Linked DNA regions of Homo sapiens: region 1 is linked to region 2. The links come from fine-mapping of genetic effects on gene expression. Tissue or cell type: whole blood. Region 2 holds a variant in brackets; the other region holds the start of a gene. All regions are shown on one strand. Distances are between the middles of the regions.

Region 1 (2,500 bases), 80 kb before region 2:
CCTGACTGTGAGCCTCCCTGAAATGTGGACAGGCCAAAATCTGCCAGCTGCAAAGGAAGGAAAGAAGTGGGAGGTAGGGAAGACAAGGGGGCCAGAGAGCCTCCAGGAACCCCCCTGCCCCCAGAAGGTGCAGGTTCAGCTTTGTAAAGGGAGTGTGGAGGTCAAGGGAAGAGGTTCCCTTGGATGGTAGATCTAGGTGCCTTGTGGTAGGGCTAGGTCAAGGTCTGAGTCTCCAGGGCTGGGTCAGCCATGACTCTTTGGAGGGGCTGGTGGGGCAGCTGGTGGAAATGACTCGTGTGGCTCAGGGCCTCTATCACCTGGTAGGCAGGAGCTAAAACTCCTGGCTGGGCTTTGTCCCCTGGCAGCCCTGTGTCCAGAGAGAGAGGCTACGCCTATTCAATAGACAGGGCTCTGGAGGTCTAGTGTCCGGCGGGCCTGGCTGGAGCAGCTCTGGGGCCTTGTCTTGAGGCTGAGAGGGGTGTAGACCAGCTGACCTTGACGTGCAGCTCTGGGTCCAGCAGGACGTTGGATGGCTTGAGGTCCCGGTGCAGGAGCACCGGGTTCTGGTCGTGCAGGTAAAACATCCCAAGCACCACTTCTTTCAGCAGGCGGCAAAGGAGCGGCCAGGGCCGAGGGCACTGGGACTGCAGCAGCCCCGACAAGGAGCCGTTCTCCATGAATTTAGTCACCAGAGCCGGCTTGGGATCTTGGTCCCAGTTCACCTTCTCGATAACCCCTTCTAGGCGCAGCACGAATTCGTTATCCAGACTTGCCATGGCCTTGACCTCCCTGGATATCGCCTTCCTACACTCCAGGAGAGAGCTGGAGTCGCACCGGGGTCGTGGGAAAATCCCTCCCTTCGCCATTCAGGCCCCAGAGCACAGTGGCTCCACCTTTTTGGCCAGATTGCGGCTGGGGTCAACCGGGGTCACTCACGAGTTTACGATCTTGACCGCCACATCGTAGCCCCACTTCCTATGTTGCGCCCGGAACACTGTGCCGAACCCGCCTTTGCCGACGAGCTCCTGGTTCTCCAGTTCCTCGATGGACACCAAGGGGGCGGGGGCACCGCTGGGCCTGAGAGAGGGGTGTCGCCCACTAGCCGGCCGTGCCGTGCCTCAGCGCTGCTCCCCGCGCCCCTGTGACTCGGCGTTCTCACTGCAATCCCCAGCCTCCCTCGCCGGCCCCCACCGTCCCCGGACTCAAAGACGTTCTCTGAGCGAGTCTGTGGGGCTCTCTGGGTGTGAATGTCGGAGGCTGCGATCGACATGCCACTCCCTACTCACCATAACTTGACGCACGACATCAGGCTGGAAGGTGCCAGGGGGCCTCTGGAAATTGCGAGCCGTAGGAGATGGAGTGACTTCTGGGGCTTGGTCCTTTCGCAGAGAGGGGAAGGGGTCTGTCTGTGCAGGGGTCAGTCTCTAGACCAAGACGGTGAGTCTACTTTCCGGGTTGTTACCCTTTTTCCGAGTTGACTGAACAACTTCCCTTATAGGCGCCTCTACAGTCCCGCCCCTGGGGTGGGGCAGGGGGCAGAGCGAAAGCTAGTGCCTTTCTCCTTGACTAGCGTTTCCTGAGCACCTGCCGCAGCCAGATTAGGTGTTGCTGGGCATTGAGGATGTTAGGGAAGGAGTCCTCACCTTCCAGGAACCCACAATCAACCCACTCCTACAGTCAAAGCCTTCCCTTTTCCCACAGGATTTCCTGCTCCACGACCTGCCAGGCCATGAGTGGAGATGGTGCTTAGGAGGGTTTTATGGTTCTAGGGCTCAGCTCTCTCACAGCTGCCCTAAGATCATAGCCAACACGTATATAAAACTTATCATGCACCAGGTATATATATTAGCTTATTTAATTCTCACACGAACCCTAAGGGGATAGGTACTGCTTTTATTACCTTTCTATAGGTGAGGAAACTGAGACACTGAGAGTTTAAGTACCTTGCCTAAGCCCATATGGAAATAATGGCTCTGAACCATCAAGTTATCCTGTTTTCACATAGGCTTCAGGGCTGTACCACTCAGCTGGTCGTGCAGGTGGCTGGGAAAGGTGTGAAGCATCCAACAATGTAGTGAAGGATCCCTATCTGTATTCCTGCCCAGTCCCTATAGCTGCTCTTGCGAGGCAAGTCTTTGGCATTGATAGGGACTTATATGCCCTTTGAACAGGAGCTCCTGGAGGTGGCAGGCCCCAAGCCCACTCCCAGGGCATTGTGGTAAGGCTAGATTTATCAGCCCATCCAGAGGGTTGGTGACATTGTGGTGTACACTACAGTGGAAACACCTCAGAGCTTTCCTGCCCTCTCCCTTGCATGACAACTCTTGCATGCAAATACCCTAATTAATGTTCCTGACAAGCACATGCTCTGGACACAGTCTTTTGATAACCCAGAAGCATGGAGAGTCTTAAAGATTTAGGGCAGAAAAAAGGTGTCCATATTTTACCTTTCTGAGGTCTGACCATGACTGGAGGTTGTGGGAACCCGATAGGGCCTGCC
Region 2 (2,757 bases):
AAATGATTCACCCAAAGTCACACAGCAAGTTCATGGCTGAGCTGAGACCAGGATTAAGCTTCCTGACTCCCAGTTCACCATGAAAAGGGTTCTGGCAACAGGTTCAAGCTGGAGAATCCTTCAAAATGCTACACCCACATTCTCTCCAACTCTTCATCTCCCTGATCTTCCAGACAAACTACCTGGATGTTGCCCTTAAACCATTTCTAGCTGTTAACCCTGTCCAGAAAAATGATTGAGTGATAGCTGAGAAGTGGAAAGTGTGGGATTTTTGGCAGGTGCTCTCTTTCCTCCGCCCCCCGCGCCATTCTTTCTCTTCCTCCTCTCTGTAATGGTATGTCCAGCCTCACTCTCCCTCCCTGGTGCTGTATGCGTTCCCCCTGTTAGCTACATTTGTGATCACATACCCTTCTTTTAAGTGAATTTTTTTCATTTGATTTGTCAATAAACGAATCAAACTGGAGCTGATGTCCAGTTCTTTGTTTAGCTTCAGTCTCAATTGTGGGAATGAGGAGTGTGGGGCAGTCATGGGGTATGGCTGCTATATGTTTCCCAGATAAACTTGCAGATTTGAAGAAAAGTACCTTTTCCAGACCATCTGCCCCAAGCTCTTACTGTACAGATGAAGAGACCAGGGCCCAGAGGGTGATATGCTTAAGGCTCCATAGCTGCTTCATGGCAGGGCTGGAAGGAGAGTCCCACCTCTGGGCTTCCAAGCTGGTACCCTTGGCAGTTAATGTCTTGGAAGTGGGCAGGGTTGGAATGAAAACGAGTGATGAGGCAGGGCACGGTGGCTCATGCCTGTTATTCCAGCACTTTGGGAGGCCGAGGTGGGTGGATCTCTTGAGGCCAGGAATTCAAGACCAGCCTGGCCAACATGGCGAAACCCCCTCTCTACTAAAAATACAAAAATCAGCTGGGTGTGGTGTCAGGCACCTGTAAACTCGGGAGGCTGAGGCAGGAGAATTGCTTGGACCCGGGAGGCGGAGGTTGCAGTGAGCTGAGATCACACCACTGCACTCCAGCCTGGGTGACAGAGTGAGACTCCATCTCAAAAAGAAAAGAGAAAGAAGGAAAGAAGGAAAGAAGGAAAGAAGGAAAGAAAGAAAGAAGGAAAGAAGGAAGGAAGGAAGGAAGGAAGGGAGGAATGAAA[GA/G]AAGAAAATAAATGAATGATGAGAGAATGGTGTTAGTGCTGAACCAGCTTCATTTTACTGGAAAAATTATAGACCTAGGTTTGCATCTATATTTGCTACCTATGCAGGCTGTTTCCTGAGGTCTCAGTTTCCCCATCTATAAAACACAGGGTAACAATTCCTAATTTATGAGATGGTTCAAGGATTACATGAAATAATCTGTTTGAAGAGGCCAGTATGGCTTGGGATGGAATAGCATTCATCATATGTAGCTAACATTACTCTTCTTCCTGCCCTGGGAACTCTTGCTGGTCTCTCCCCTCAGGATCAGAGACCTTCTTAACCCAGGCCAAGCTTCGTGACTTTAGGCCTTTGCTTTTTGCTGCCTTTCTCACTTGCCCGGGGTTCTGCTCAGCACTGGCTGGCGTACGGGTTGGGGTGGGAACCATCCTTCCTGAGAACTCCCCAGCTCCTGTGCATACCATTGTTCATTCAGTATTTATAGGACACCTGCTATGTGCCAGGCTCTGCCTAGGTGTGGGATGGCTAACAGGTAACAGGAGTGACACGGTCTCTGCCTCTTTGCAGCCCACAGTCAGGTGAGGGAGACAGACAATCCAACAAACAAATACAGTTCAGGGTGGTAAGGGAAACAATGTGGCCTAGGAGCCCATGGTGCAGGGGCCTGGGGTCTCAGCCCACATGACAGTCAGAGAAGCCTTGCCTGAGCCCCTTCACCAAAAGTAATAGGATTTTGCCAAGCCACCTTTCCAGTCAGCCTTCCACTTTAGAGTGCTGACCCTTTCCATTGCTGACCTGTACTACAAACAATTTATTACTTTTGGTTATTACTTTTTACTCTAGATAACTTTAAGCAAGAATCAGATTTTACTCACGCTGGCTTCTAAGTCCTCTGACAGTGAGGTTTTTCTTCTTTGCTGTTCAACAATCTACCAGGTCTGAACAGAAGTTTGAGATTCCTCCTATTTTTGGAGGGGTGAATTAAAGAGTTTTGTCCATGGTAAAGCACCATGGACGCTCTAGGCAACCAGTCACTGCTTCTCTGGTTTACACCATCACAATTATTCCTTCTTATTTGGGCCCTGGCAGGAGGGCTTCCCCAAGTCTCTAACAGAGAAATTACAAAGTTGCCAGTATCCAGACAATCCCATGACATAAGCAAACAATAAAAATAAAGAATATTCCTATCCCGTGCCCCTGTTAAAACTTACATAAGCTATCTGGTGAAGTTGGGTCCACCTAAGCCTTGCTATACCATGCTTTCCTAGCAAGTATTTACTAAGTCCATGTGTTCATGAATGAAAGTGAACATACCTGGAAGACAAAAGCTTTGTAACAGGTAAATGGCTACAACAAATAAAAAATCCTACCTGCTTTTAAAAGACTGTCCAAGAATCCCTGGGACAGGTCCAATTTTTAACTTGTTTACTAAGTCATCTGATAACAGTAACTTACATATACTGAGTACTTGCTCTGTGTTGGGTACTGTTCTAAGTGCTTTCCAACCCTGTGGGGTGCATACAATTAGTATCTCCATTTTATAGGTGGAAGAAAATGAGGCACGGAGAGGTGAAGTAACTCACTGAAAGTCATGTACAACCAC

What was found. PIP is the estimated chance that this variant, and not a neighbour inherited with it, causes the effect.
Region 1: RIPK3 starts here. The variant in region 2 is fine-mapped to the expression of RIPK3 in whole blood (INTERVAL, PIP above 0.99).

The regions. Positions count from the first base shown.
Region 1 is chr14:24,338,521-24,341,020 of GRCh38, forward strand. RIPK3 (receptor interacting serine/threonine kinase 3) reads right to left here and starts at 1,471. Exons shown (of 10, transcript NM_006871.4): 1 at 1,287-1,471; 2 at 937-1,077; 3 at 495-804; 4 at 1-47. The coding sequence starts at 1,306. RefSeq lists enhancers at 837-906, 1,137-1,336, 1,357-1,426.
Region 2 is chr14:24,418,821-24,421,577 of GRCh38, forward strand. NYNRIN (NYN domain and retroviral integrase containing) reads left to right here. Exons shown (of 9, transcript NM_025081.3): 9 at 1-463. Among named protein-coding and RNA genes, the nearest start is that of CBLN3, 9.5 kb to the right of the region's middle. The variant GA/G (reference allele first, on the strand shown) is at 1,154.